Homo sapiens: one gene and its partners. The protein of the gene in region 1 purifies or fractionates together with the protein of each later gene. This does not show direct contact. Each region holds a gene or a part of one and is shown in the gene's direction. Other genes may lie near its edges.

Region 1 (3,500 bases):
TTTCTATCAAGTGCTCATTGTCCAATTCTTTCCATTCCCCAAGCCATTTCCCCATTTTTGGGTATTTGCTATGGTAGTACCCCACTTCCTGGTACTAAAACCTCACACATGATAATGACAGCCCCACACTGCTCAGGTTTGTGATGGAGAGAAGCAGGGAGTCTGCAGGAACCTGGGGCAGGCCCCTAACAGCCTGGGAGATCAAGGAGGGCTTCCCAGTGGAGGTGACATTTGACCAGGCCTTGAAAGATGGGTAGGAGTTGGCAGGCGAGAGGCAGGCATTCTGAGCCAGGTGGAGGGCCAGGTGAGAAGTCTCCATCCCCCCAAAAGTTGTCCCCTTGGAGCCTGCAGGTGTTGATGGAGTGGATCAATGCCACTCTTCTCCCCGAGCACATTGTGGTCCGCAGCCTGGAGGAGGACATGTTCGACGGGCTCATCCTACACCACCTATTCCGTAAGTGGCTGTTTCTGGGGCTGCCTGGGCCTCGGCCCCATCCCCCTGACCTGGCCCCTCCAGGGCCCACAGGTAGGCTCTCTCCTTCAGTCCCCACAATGGTCCCGGGTTTAGGGACACCTGTCTCACTTTCTAGATGGGCCTGGGCTGGGGAGATGGAGGCGCTGTCCACAGCCCATGAGTGAGGGGGCCGAGCTGGGGCTCAGGGTGGGGCTCTGACGCCAGGGTTGGTGCTCTTTCTACCACACCACACTGCCTCTCTAACACTTATTGAGTGCCTGCTGTTTTGAGGTGCTGGGAGGTAACAAAAGAACCCATGATCCCTGCCCTCGGGCTGCCCTAGGCTGCTAGAGAGAAAACGGGCAGTCCTGGGTGGCTGGGGGCAGGGCTGGGCTCCTGTCTCCGTGTTCCTCCTCAGTCTGGAAAGCTCCAAGGGGCTTTGCAGGGGATGTGCATTCTCAGGGCCTCCTCCTGGTCCCGGGCAAGTGTTCCCCACAAGCCCCAGAGTCACCCTCTCCTTTGTCCTTGTATGGTCATGTCTGGTCTACGCATCTCTTCTGCACACAACTGTGGTCTCGGAGGCCACAGATAGGCCCAATTCCATGTCCTCAGCACTTCGCCTGAGGCCAGCCTCTGCAGTGTTCGCCGAGCTCTTTGGAGATGGGCTGCACAATCCCACTCATGCGGCTAGCACTTCCGGGCATGTCCCATGTAGCAGGTGCAGTTCATCCTCAGAATAGCCCTGTGCTGTTACTGTCCCCATTTCACAGATGAGGAAAGGGAGCCTCTGAGAGGCCTCATAATTTCTCCAAGGTCTTATGGTTAGGGAAGCAGGGGGGTCAGGATAGAAGCCTAGGAGTGTAGGCTTTAACCACTAGGCCACACTGCCCTGCAGAGATGAAGTGGACACAGCTGTGCAGAAGGGCAGGGGCTGCAGGCACAGGCTGATCAAGGTGAGGTGGGCTCTCTCAACCAGCTCAGGGGGCTGAGGCTTGCTCACATCATGTGGCCTGCATGGCCCACCAATCCTGTTCTGTGTAGATGAGGGTCTCCTGGAAGCTGGAGGGCATACCCGATTGAGGCTGTGAGTGTGGCCCACGGTCCAACACCAAGAATGGGCTCTCCAGACCCATGTTCCCTGAAGCACCAGGCAGGCTCAGCCTCCTGGAGGGTCCCTGAGGTGCTCTCTGGTCTGTCCCCGGCCAGGGGTCCTCACCACCCTCTCCTGCCTCCAGAGAGGCTGGCGGCGCTCAAGCTGGAAGCAGAGGACATCGCCCTGACAGCCACAAGCCAGAAGCACAAGCTCACAGTGGTGCTGGAGGCCGTGAACCGGAGTCTGCAGCTGGAGGAGTGGCAGGCCAAGTGGAGCGTGGAGAGTACGTGGGCCACAACCTGGCTACCCCTGGGGAGTGTGGGGCCGCTGGGGTCCTTCTGCTTCAGGCTTCTCACCCACCAGGAAGGCGCACTCATCCTTCTCCCAGCAGGGGTACAACCTGGGAGTCAGGAAGGAGGTAGAAGCCTCAGGCAGCCACAGTCAGGCATCTGGCTGAGCAGCCAACAGCCCAGCACACATCTGTGCCCTAGAGGGTGTTACTGCTGCAAAGTGCAGCCCAAGGATAGCAAACAGTCTCTGTTTGCTATCTGAATGACAGCCACTGTTGAGTTCCAAGTACCGTGGTCCGCCCATCCACACTCTCATTTCATTAAAGTATTGGAATATCTGCAGGGCCTGCTTATACAAAAAATGAGTGTGCCTGGTCGGGTGTGGTGTCTCACACCTGTAATCCCAGCACTTTGGGAGGCCGAGGCGGGTGGATCACCTGAGGTCAGGAGTTTGAGACCAGCCTGGTCAACATGGTGAAACCCCATCTCTACTAAAAATACAAAAATTAGCTGGGCGTGGTGGCCGGTGCCTGTAATCCCAGCTACTCAGGAGGCTGAGGCAGGAGAATCGCTTGAACCTGGGAGGCAGAGGTTGCAGTGAGCCCAGATTGCACCACTTCACTCCAGTCTGGGCTACAAGAGTGAGACTCCTTATCAAAGAAACACAAAAACCAAGAGAGCGTGCCAAACACCTAGACTTCCCCACCCCACCTGGTTCACAGTTTGGTATAGATTTCCTTCCCTTCAATTCTCCATATCCCCCCACCCCACCCAGATGAGAAAACTGAGGCTGAAAGAAATTATGCAGCTTCTCCAAGGTTGGGCGGTGAGGATTTAACAGAGTCCGTTTTCAAACCCAGGTTTTGTTGGGTCCCATGCGCCTGCATTCGCAGCCTGTAAGGTCTCACAATCAGTAATTGATGTTGATGAAATCAACCCTGAATTAAGTCACATGCAGCTGAAATCTAATGATCGTTCAGCCAGTGCCTTCCCAGAGGTCACTTGGTTGTTTCCGATTGTAAACAGTGCTGCAGTAAACATCTTTGTGTCTAGAGCCCCTTCCACAAGGTAGATCATACCCCTGGGCTATATTCTAAGAAGTGAGATGATGGGGTGAAGTGTGATGATTTTTAGGTTCTGAACACGTATCTCCAGATCTCTGCTCTCCAGAAGGCTGGACACAGACCTCCTTGGTCTGCAGATGGTTGTTCTGACAGTGAGGAAGCCTCCATTTGGCTGCACGTTTTGGCGGCCTCCTGGGCTCTGACCTGTCTCCACTCTCTTCCCAGGCATCTTCAACAAGGACCTGTTGTCTACCCTGCACCTCCTTGTGGCCCTGGCCAAGCGCTTCCAGCCCGACCTCTCCCTCCCAACCAACGTCCAGGTGGAGGTCATCACTATCGAGGTAGCAGCCTGGGCCCCAGGGATTTGTAAGCAGAAGCTGAGCCTCTTGGGCCCCCATTGCCGTACCCTGCATGGGTGGAGCTGGCTGGGGCGGGGCTGACCCAGGGTGAGTTTCAGGGAACCCTGAGAAATAGAATCCAGCCAGGATGGCCAGGGGGTGCTGTCTGGAGCTGGGGACGGGCTGGTAAGGGTCTAGTGGGGCTGGCGGAGGCCTGGGGGCATGAGGAGGTCCACGGCTGGCCAGCTCCACTTGACCTCA
Region 2 (3,500 bases), on another chromosome or scaffold:
TTATCCCAAATTTTTTAAATGATTAAACATTTGAGAATCTGTCAGAGCCAGATAGATTACATTCTAGGTGTGTTACATAGTTTTTCTTTAGTTTAACAGTTTTCTTAAAAGAAAATTCATCCACATGCATTTTTAAGGTGCAGTAACATATAGCCAGTTTACAGCTCTTTTCTTGCTAGTGTACACTAGCAAATATATGTTCCAATTACGCATAAATAATTTAAATGATCTCTGGAGCCTCTTGCAACTATCCCCTTGTCTTGTGTTGCTACTAAAAGGAAAAACGTATTGATTTAACCTTTGGTATTATCAGGAAAAATAGTCATTGTCATTTACTATCATTTTATTTTTTGTATTTTTGGTCATTTTATGAATAGTCCTGAGAAGCAGCAATAAAGGGATAGTGGAAAAACAACTTTATTAGAAATTATAATAAAAATAAAAACATAGCAAACCCAAATTTTTATTCCATATATTCTTGAAATAGGGAGGCCTCAAGCAATCCTCCTGCCTTGGCCTCCCAAAGTGTTGAGATTTGATGTGAGCCAACATGCCAGGCCCAATATTCTTTTTTTATGGCTAAATTCCATTGTGTATATAGACCACATCTTCTTTATCCATTCATCCATTGATGGTTGATTCCATATTTTAGCTATTGTGAATAGTGCTGTAATAAACGTGTGAGTGCAGATATCTCTTCAATGTATTGATTTCCCTTTTGGATATATACGTAGTAGTAGAATTGCTAGATCATACAGTAGTTGTATTTTAAGTTTTCTGAGGAACCTCCATACTGTATTCCATAGTGACTGTACTAATTTACATTCCCACCAACAGTGTAGCAGGGTTCCCCTTTCTCCACATCCTTGCCACCATCCATTATTCTCTATCTTTTTAATAAAAGCCATTTTAGGCCGCCCATGGTGACTGAGGTGAGAGGATCACTTGAGCTGCTCAGGAGTTTAAAACTAGCGTGGGCAACGTAGTGAGACCTCGTCTCTAGTATAATAAAAAAAATTTTTTTTAAGCCATTTTGACTGGGGTAAGATGATAGCTCATTGTGGTTTTGATTTGCATTTCTATGATGATTAGTGATGTTGAACATTTTTTTAATTTACCTGTTGGCCATTAGTATGCCTTATTTTGAGAAATGTCTATTCTTTTGCCCATTTTTAAATAAGATTATTTTTCTTTTATTGAGTTGTTTGAGCTCCTTATATATTCTGGTTACTAATCCCTTGTCAGATGGATAGTTTGCAGACATTTTCTCCTGTTCTGTGGGTTGTCCCTTCACTTTGTTGATTGTTCACTCAGCTGTGAAGAAGCTTTTTAGCTTGATATAATCTAATTTGTCTACGTTTGCTTTGGTTGTCAGTGCTTTTGTGGTCTTACACAGAAAAGTTTTTGGCCAGGCCAAGAGTTGTGCCTCATGCCTATAATCCCAGCACTTTGGGAGGCTGAGGCAGAGGATTGCTTGACCCCAGGAGTTTCAGACCAGTCTGGGCAACATAGGGAGACCCTACTTTTGCAAAAAGAATTTTAAAAGTTTAAAAATTAAAATAAAATTAAAGAAAAAAGTTTAAAACATTAAAAGTTTAAAAATAAAGTTAAATGAATAAATAAAATTAGCTGGATGTGGTAGCACACACCTGTGATCCCAGCTACTCAGGAGCCTGAGGTGGGAGGATTGCTTGAGCTCAGGAGGTCAAGGGTATAGAAAGCTGTGATTACACCACTGCATTCAAAGCCAGGTAACAGAGTGAGACCCTGTCTCCAAAAACAAAAAAACAAAATAAAACAACTTTTGGCCAGGCCAATGTCCTGGAGTATTTCCCAAATACATTTTTCTAGTAGTTTCATAATTTCAGATCTTACATTTAAGTTTCTAATCCATTTTGATTTGATTTTTGTATCAAAAATCAAAGAGATAAGGAAGAAATATCTGAGAGATAGTCTTATTCTTCTGCATGTGGTTATCCAGTTTTCCCAGCACCATTTATTGAAGAGACTATCCTTTTACCATGATGTGTTCTTGATTGCTTTGTCAAAAATTACTTGGTTGTAAATGTGTGGATTTATATCTGGGTTCTCTATTCTGTTCCATTTGTCCATGTGTCTATTTTCTTGCCAGTATTATGGTCATTTGGTTACTATAGCTTTGTAGTATATTTTGAAGTCAGATAGTGTGATGCCCCAAGCTTTGTTCTTTTCCCCTAGGACTGCTTTGGCTATTCAGAGTCTTTTTGTGGTTCTATATACGTTTTAGGATTCTTTTTCTATTTCTGTGAAGAATGTCACTGGTATTTTGATAGAGATTGCATTGAATCTGAAAATTGTTTTGGGTAGTATTGTCGTTTTAACAATATTCTTCTAATTCCACAAGCTTAGAATATCTTTCCTTTTATTTGTGTCTTCAATTTTCTTCATCAGTGTTTTATAGTTTTCTTTTACAGATCTTTCACTTAAGATAATTGCTTCGTATTTTATATTATTTGTAACTATTGTAAATGTTATGCTCTAACAGCAAACAACATGAAAAATAAATCAAGAAAGCAATCTAAATAAAAAAAAGTCTGTACTGACTTTTGTATGTTAATTTTGTATCCTGACACTTTACTGAATTTGTTTATCAGTTCTTAACAGCTTTTGGTGGAGTCTTTAGGGGTTTTGTAAATATAAGATTATGTTGCCTACAAAGATAACTTGACTCCTTCCTTTGCAATTTAGATGCCCTTTATTTCTTTCTCTTGTCTGATTGCTGTGACCAGGGCTTTCAGTATTATATTAGATAACAGTGGTGAAGGTGGGCATCCTTGTCTTGTTCCAGATCTTAGAGGAAAGGCTTTCAATATTTCACCATTCAGTGTGATGTTAGCTGTGGTTTTATCACATGTGGCCTTTATTATTTGGGAACATGTTCCTGCTGTATCCAGTTTGCTGAGGGTTTTTATCATAAAGAGATGTTGAATTTGTCAAATACTTTTTCAGCATCTATTGAAATGGTCATATGTTTTTGGTTCTTGATTCTGTTAATGTGATGTATCATGTTTATTGATTTGAATATGTTGAACTATCCTTGCGTCCCTTGGATGAATCCCACTTGATCATGATGAAGGATCTTATTAATGTGATTTGCTAGTATTTTGTTGAGAATTTTTGCATCTGTATTCATCAGTAATATTGGCCTGTAGTTTTCTTTTTTGTTGTGTCCTTATTTGGTTTTGATATCAAGGTAATGCTGGCCTTGTAGAATGAGTTTGGAAGTATTCCCTCTTTAATTTTTTGTTTTGTTTTGTTTTGGAAGAGTTTGAGTAGAAGTGAGAATTAGTTATTCTTGAAATGTTGGGTAGAATTCAGCAGTGAAGCCATCAGGTTCCAGGCTTTTCTTTGATGAAAGACTTTTTATTGCAGCTTCCATCTTATTACTTACTGGTCTGTTCAGGTTTTCAGTTTATTCATGTTTCAATCTTGGTAGGTTGTAAGTGTCCAGGAATTTATTA
Region 3 (3,500 bases), on another chromosome or scaffold:
CTCGGCTCACTGCAACTTCCGCCTCCCAGGTTCAAGTGATTCTCCTGCCTCACCCTCCTGAGTAGCTGGGATTACAGGTGCCCACCACCACGCCTGGCTAATTTTCGTACTTTTAGTAGAGACAGGGTTTCGCCATGTTGGCCAGTTTGGTCTTGCACTCCTGACCTCAAGTGATCCACCCACCTTGGTCTCCCAAAGTGCTGAGATTACAGGTGTGAGCCATTGCACCTGGCCTTTTTTCCAATAGTCTTGAATGGATGTCAAATTAGAGAATTGCAAGCCACTGAGGCTGACTTTGCATGGGCTATTCGGCCATTGGAGAAGAGTACAAAGCTGGATTTCCATTTTGCTCAGGGCCCTAGAGCTCGTGTGTGTGCTTTCTCTTCAACTCCTGTCCTTTTTGTCTTCTTCACAGATGGCAGAAGATTTTCAAGTCCCGGCTGGTGGAGTTGTTAGTGTCCTATGGCAACACCTTCTTTGTGGTTCTCATTGTCATCCTTGTGCTGTTGGTCATCGGTGAGTGAGCTATGGCTGAGGGCAGCTACCTGACCTAGACCCTGGTCTCTGCTGCAAAACCCTTTGCCACTTTTGATGTGTAGCATCCAGTTTTGGCTGCTAGGAGACAGACCAATGAAATGCTGTGTCTTTCTCTTGAGGGAGGGAAGAGGCTCCCTTTGCCCATGCTGCTGACCGCTAGTCGGTTCTTCACTTTGAGGCCCCTCTAGGCCGTACATGGTGGCTCATGCCTGTAATCCCAGCACTTTGGGAGGCTGAGGTCGGTGGATCACCTGAGATGAGGAGTTCGAGATCAGCCTGGCCAACGTGGTGAAACCCCATCTCTACGAAAAATACAAAATTAGCTGGGCGTGGTGGCGGGCACCTGTAATCCCAGCTACTTGGGAGACTGAGGCAGGAGAATTGCTTGAACCCACGAGGCAGAGGTTGCAGTGAGCCTAAATCGCACCATTGCACTCCAGCCTGGGCAACAAGAGGGAGACTCCATCTCAAAAAAAAAAAAAAGAGGCCCCTCTAGCAGTGGGCGTGGGCTTATACCAAGCAGTTTGTATGCAGCTTATGACGGCCACCTTACATTGCTTTTTTTCAAGACCTTGGAAGGAGGGACGCCTAAGGTTTCTGAGGCTGCTCCTCAGGTCACTCTAGAACTGAAGCCAAGAGAAGCTAACTGGCCTGTGACCTTGGTCTGAGTAGTGCTGCTCACCAGTCACTTAAACAGCAGAATTGCCTGGAGCAGGGCCTCTAATGGGGGACTGAGCAACCAAGCACACAGTGAAGTCCTGCCATTCCCTGTAGTAGTAGGAGGAGAACACAGAGATGTGTGGCAGCATATCTTGGGGAGAGATCCTAGACCTCTCTGCATCTGGGCTAGACTTGAGGTTTTCCCAGGTCGTTCCAGCTCTGTAGTTCTGTAAACTCTGACATTGAGGTGTACACTAGCAGGTGCTTGAAAGATAAACTGGTCCAAGGGCAAGCAGGCTCTGGGATAAGGCCAGGCCAGGTGGTGGTAAGATGAAAGGCAGACATTTTGCAATGAGGTGGTAGGGTGACCATCTGGAGACAAGAATCAATAAAGCTCTTGTCTGACTGGTAGATGTTTGTTGTTTTGCTGTGGTAAGTGATCGATATGTCCCCCTGTTTGGGCTCCAAAGTATTGGCTTGGCTCTGCTGTGGACACCACTCTTGTCTCAGAGCTGTGGTGCCTGCCTAGGCGTGGAACACTCCTCCCACCGAGTCCCAGCAGAAACACTGAGCGGGTGGGGGGCTGTGGTTCAGGGGAATGTGCAAAGCCTCACCCACCAGCTTCAGCATTAGGCATTTCTCCTTCCTGATGTCTCAGAGCCTGATAGGATATGTTCAGGCTGGACTGCCTCTGAACAGGCCAAGTGTTACCTGACAGCTTCCAACCACATAGGGTAGGTGCCAGCTGCCTGAGCACCTCAGTGTTCTTGAAATACTTGGCAAGGCCCCAAGAGGTAGTAGCTCTTTCTAACCAGGGTTCTCGCCCTGAGCAGCCTCCAAGCCAGGAGTAGGTAGGTAATATATGTGTCATCCCCAGGCCACTGAGTTTTTGAACTGAGCATGTGTGTTTTGGCTTTTGGGTCTGGGGTGGGGGTAATAACTGGGGAGGGGAGGGACCATGCTGAGGATGATTCCCTCAGGGTCTTGCCCCTTCCCCAAACCAGAAGGAGTATGTTTCTTTCCTAGAGCAGCTGAGTGGGCTGGAGAGATCCTTTGCGGAATCCAGTAGTTGACAAAGCCTTCATTCTTTTTTGGGATCGGGGAACTGCTTGGAAGTTCTAGGGGGACATATGGCCATGATGACTGGCTGCTTCCTACTCCCATGTTAAGAAGCATAATCTAGAAAGATCTGCAGAGCCTTCTTCAAACAGAAGTGTTAGTCACAGGTACTAGTGAAGGGTAAGGGGCATAACTAGCTAGAGCTGTGGCCTTGCTTGGGGGTGGGGAGGGTTGAGCAGATCCTCCTGGAGGATGGAGTTGCTGAGGGTGCAGGATCTTCCCACCTGGGCTGAGGCCCGAGACAGGGAGGGCTGGTTTCTACTGTGGGACTTGGGTTAGTATTGCTCAGTCCCCCATCCCCACTATTGGTCATTGGCCAAGGTGGTCCTTAGGATGGTGGGGTTCCTGGATGCAGGTGACAGTGTAAGGAAACATGTTTATCTTGTTTTTCTGATTACAAAAATAATGGGTAATTATTCTTAAAAATTCAAAAGTTGAATTTAGAAAGTTAAACTCCCCATAATCCCATTTCCCACAGGTAACCATCATGAGTATTTTGTTGTGCATTTCCAGAGGGGTTTTGTATGCTGACATCTTTAATAAAATGTCTACAACGGTGGGATCATACACACAAAGTATTTATGTTTCTTTCCACATTCCTGCTGGGACATGGCAGGAGGAGCATTCCACGCCTGAGCTGGTAGCACAGCTCTGAGATAAGACTGCTGTCCATAGCAGAGCCTAGCCAATACTTTGGATTGTGCTTTTTCTACCTGCTGCACGTTAGACATCTTTTTTTTTTTTTTTTTTTTTTGAGATGGAATCTCACTTTGTTGCCCAGACTGCAGTGCAGTGGCGCCATCTTGGCTCACTGCAACCTCCGCCTCCCAGGTTCAAGCGATTTCCCCTGCCTCAGCTTCCGAGTAGCTGCAGGTTACAGGCGCCCGCCACCATGCCCGGCTAATTTTTTGTATTTTTAGTAGAGACGAGGTTTCACCGTGTTGGCCAGGCTGGTCTTGAACTCCTGGCCTCAAGTGATCCGCCCACCTCGGCCTCCCAAAGTGCTGAAATTACAGGCATGAGCCACTGTGTCCGGCCAACATCTTTTTATAGCAATCTCATTCTTCTTAAAGATCATGTAGTATTCTCTCATGTGGTTGTGCCGTAATCCATTCTTTATAAGCATCTTCGAATCATTGCAAATTTATGCAAATACTTCTGTGGGATAATTTCAGAGGTGAATT
Region 4 (3,500 bases), on another chromosome or scaffold:
TGGATTTGGCAGTGAGTGACAGAAACCCAATATAGTGGTAGCTTAAAAAGGTAGTTCACTTCTCGGACAAACACGGGTAATCCAGGTTTGGTGACTACATGATTATCAAGAACCTGGGCCCCTTTACTCTTGTTGCTCTACCATTTCTAACACTCAGCTGCTACTTCATGGTTCTGTTTGGCTGCTATAGCTATAGCCATCCTTTTTACATTCTAGTCAACAGGGAGGAAAAAGAGGAGATACTTTCTCCTTTTAAAGAAACTTCCCAGCAGTTGTCCAGAACTTTTAGTCCAGTTGGCCATACCCAGTTGTAAGGGAGCCCGGAAAATAAGTTTTTATTTTAGGCAGCCTTGTGTGCAGATAGTTTCTACCACTGTAGGGAAAGGAGAGAACATATGTGGCAGGGATAACAGCCTCTACCAGGATAAGCTCTTGGGAGCTTTGAATGGCTCAATCAGTAAACAATATTGCTTATTATAAGTAGTGCACTATGAAAGATGAATTGTGGGAAAATGAGGGAGATTGGGGGAAGGAGAACAGAATTGAAAAAAAAAATTAAAAATCTCCCCCTTGCTTTTCTAAGAGATGCCATTTACTTGAGGAGATCAGACATGCATACATAAGTTACAGAGCAATGTAAGAATCAGAGGATGCAATTAGTGGGGGAATCAGACTCACGTGGGATTTATTTTTGGAGGCAGGCATCTCTAAAGGACTGGAGTTTTGAGAAAACAGAAGAGAATTGACATACTTTTGGGTAAATGGAGTTCTTTGTACAAGATATTAATCACTGTTTTGTACCCTTAACACTTAAGAGTCTTAACACTTATTTCTAATGTAGAGTTGAGGAAGGAATTATAATAAACCTATGAGAAATCTCTGTTGAGTAAAATGATAAATAATATCCTTGTTAATTTATTAATTTATCTTATCTTACTTTTGACAGCTATTTATAGTACTTTCAATTTCAAAATAGACAAAAGGTTTGTCTTCCAATTTGTATGTGGTAATTAGAACCATTGTAACTTATGACCTCCCCAATTGAATAACTGAATTATTTTATAGAAATAACATAGTAAATTTTGTGAATAGAGAAAAAGAAGCCAAGAAGTCATAGAAGAGAGAACAAGGGGAGTGGACTTTGAGTATTGTAAAAAACAGTGGGTTTGGCAGAGTTCACTGGTGTCTTAAAAACATTTAAAAATGAATTAGTGTGATCTAGTAATAGAGTTTTGCATTTTTTTACTTAATATTATAATGTGTACATTTTTTCTTGATGTAAAATTTTTTCTAAAGCATGAGTTTTAAAATTGATTGTGTATAGCATTCCATAGTTTGGATTTACTATAATGATTTACCCCATACCCTTATTATTAGACATTTAAATTGCTTATAACATTTTTGTAACTATGAGCAAAGATAAACAATTTAAGTCTTTAAAAAGTGAATTCGTGAGCACAGAAACTACATGTTGGAATATAGGGTATTACTGGAGAGAACTTTGAGGTAGCAGAGATAGTATTTTGAGTTTTCCTCTAAAATGAGGAAGATGATGATCCTATAGAAAATAGTGGAATGAAGCAATTAATAGCTTATAAAATTTGGACTTTAGTCATCTACTTAAGAAAATTAAAGCTATATATATAGTATTGCTGGTTTACATAAACTAATACAGTAACATAAATGTGGATAATTTACATTTTATTCCTTAGGTATACATACATACTTTAAGTTTCATGTATTTACTGATGTCTAAATCATACTGATTTTTAAGTAGTGACATGACATTTTTGTTTGGAAAACAAATCCTTCACTTTAAATTGGTTCATTGTTTTCTATTAGAGTTTTGTAGTATGAAACTATTCAGTTTAGAAAAGAAATGCATACAAATTTCTGTTCAAATATGCATATGCTTTTTACTGGGCTTATTGTATGTATCTTGATTTACAGGCCTTTTTGCAAATGTGTAACTTGCCTATCAAAGTAGTTTGTAGGGCAAATGCAGAATATATGTCTCCATCTGGTAAGTGTGTTTTTTTTTCTTCTCTGTTAATATTATGGAGTGATAAAATTATAGTGATAGTCCAGTTTGTATCTACATGTTAAAATGCCTGATTTTTTTTGTTTACCCTTTGAAGAATCTTTCCATGGTTTTAGAAAGTAACAATTGCAAATTTGACAATCTTGGGGTTGGCATATCTATTCATTTCAACTGTGATCAGAGATGGTTACTGACGTGTGGAAATGGTTTTAATAGTAAGGGAATTGTTTTAAATAGTAAATGTTAAGGAAATACATGATCTCAGATTTCCCTAGTCTTAATGTACATAAGACTTTCCTGTTGAGAAAACAAATTTTAGTAATAATGAATCCATTTATTATTCCACACATCTTTCTTAATTATATTCTCCCATAATACAGCTGGAAGAAGAGAGATTGTAGAAAAATTAATTTGTCGTTAGATCTTGAAGTCATCACTGAATGTTTTTGGTTTCTAATTATTTTTTCTAATGCTTAATTTTAACAGGTTTTGAGATGCTTTAGCTTCCTATTTTTTAAAATCAGTATTATCTTTATGTCAGTAGATTAAATTACTGTTTTAAATAAATAATTCAAAATTTTTAATATAAAAATGTGCTACAAAGCTGATAAATAAATGTTATATATAATTATCATGGATGATTATTGTAATTATGGTTTTGTTGGAGCAATAATACGTAGAATTACTCCTTTTTGAATAAATTATTAAGTATAACTGATTGGTATAAGTGTGTAACATTGCTTTTTAGGGAGACATTTTTCATTTTGATATGATAATTTAGGAGTGACTTGTGTTAAATTTTTTTTTTCCACCTTAAGTTTTTAAGGGTGGTAGAAATTGTTAAAAGGTATGAAGACACCCCTTCTGTACATAATGTTCTTTTATATAAATACCTGGTTTTAGAGGTTTATGAATATACATTTAGAAAACATTTCCATAAAATAATTTCTAGGCTTGTAAATGTAAACATATTTTAGATTCTTGGAGGGCATTCATTGACTCATTTTTGTGTTGGTTTTATACGTAGATTTTAGGAACTACAGAGTTCTGGTGAAATAAGTTATGTTGTGTTTTGTCCATCCTTTTCCTCTATGTAGTCATACAAACAGTTTGTATATTTATGTAAAAAGGTTAGAAGGTTAGTAATCTAATGCTAAAGTTCAGATCTTTGGCAAGTGAGATATCAATATAGTTTATCTACCTGTTTCCTAAAATTACTATACTTAGTGTCATTTAGGTAGATACCTATTTTCTTTTTATTAGATTGCGCGAAAGACAAACATAAATATTCTAGAGACATACAAAAATATACATTCTTTCATAGGAGTCTCCTATAGGTAGATGAAAATGGCACTTTCTACTAAGATATTTAAACTTTATCATATCTCAGATTGGTATTCTCTTTCATTTAATGATTTGAGGTGATAGGGAAATGTTTTTTATTGTATTTGCTTCTTTG

Evidence for each region.
Region 2: the proteins of PARVG (region 1) and POLK purify together in Homo sapiens (affinity purification with mass spectrometry; 3 studies listed by BioGRID and IntAct, with this or other methods). This does not show direct contact.
Region 3: the proteins of PARVG (region 1) and BCAP31 purify together in Homo sapiens (co-immunoprecipitation; one large-scale study listed by IntAct). This does not show direct contact.
Region 4: the proteins of PARVG (region 1) and MTX2 purify together in Homo sapiens (affinity purification with mass spectrometry; one large-scale study listed by BioGRID and IntAct). This does not show direct contact.

Annotation. Positions count from the first base shown.
Region 1 is NC_000022.11:44,187,425-44,190,924, forward strand, and holds part of PARVG (gamma-parvin), read left to right. Parts: intron 1-351; coding exon 352-454; intron 455-1,689; coding exon 1,690-1,830; intron 1,831-3,126; coding exon 3,127-3,242; intron 3,243-3,500. UniProt on the Homo sapiens protein: Plays a role with ILK in promoting the cell adhesion and spreading of leukocytes.
Region 2 is NC_000005.10:75,514,891-75,518,390, forward strand, and holds part of POLK (DNA polymerase kappa), read left to right. Parts: intron 1-3,500. UniProt on the Homo sapiens protein: DNA polymerase specifically involved in DNA repair. Plays an important role in translesion synthesis, where the normal high-fidelity DNA polymerases cannot proceed and DNA synthesis stalls.
Region 3 is NC_000023.11:153,717,888-153,721,387, reverse strand, and holds part of BCAP31 (B-cell receptor-associated protein 31), read left to right. Parts: intron 1-415; coding exon 416-516; intron 517-3,500. UniProt on the Homo sapiens protein: Functions as a chaperone protein. Is one of the most abundant endoplasmic reticulum (ER) proteins.
Region 4 is NC_000002.12:176,321,442-176,324,941, forward strand, and holds part of MTX2 (metaxin-2), read left to right. Parts: intron 1-1,950; coding exon 1,951-2,023; intron 2,024-3,500. UniProt on the Homo sapiens protein: Involved in transport of proteins into the mitochondrion.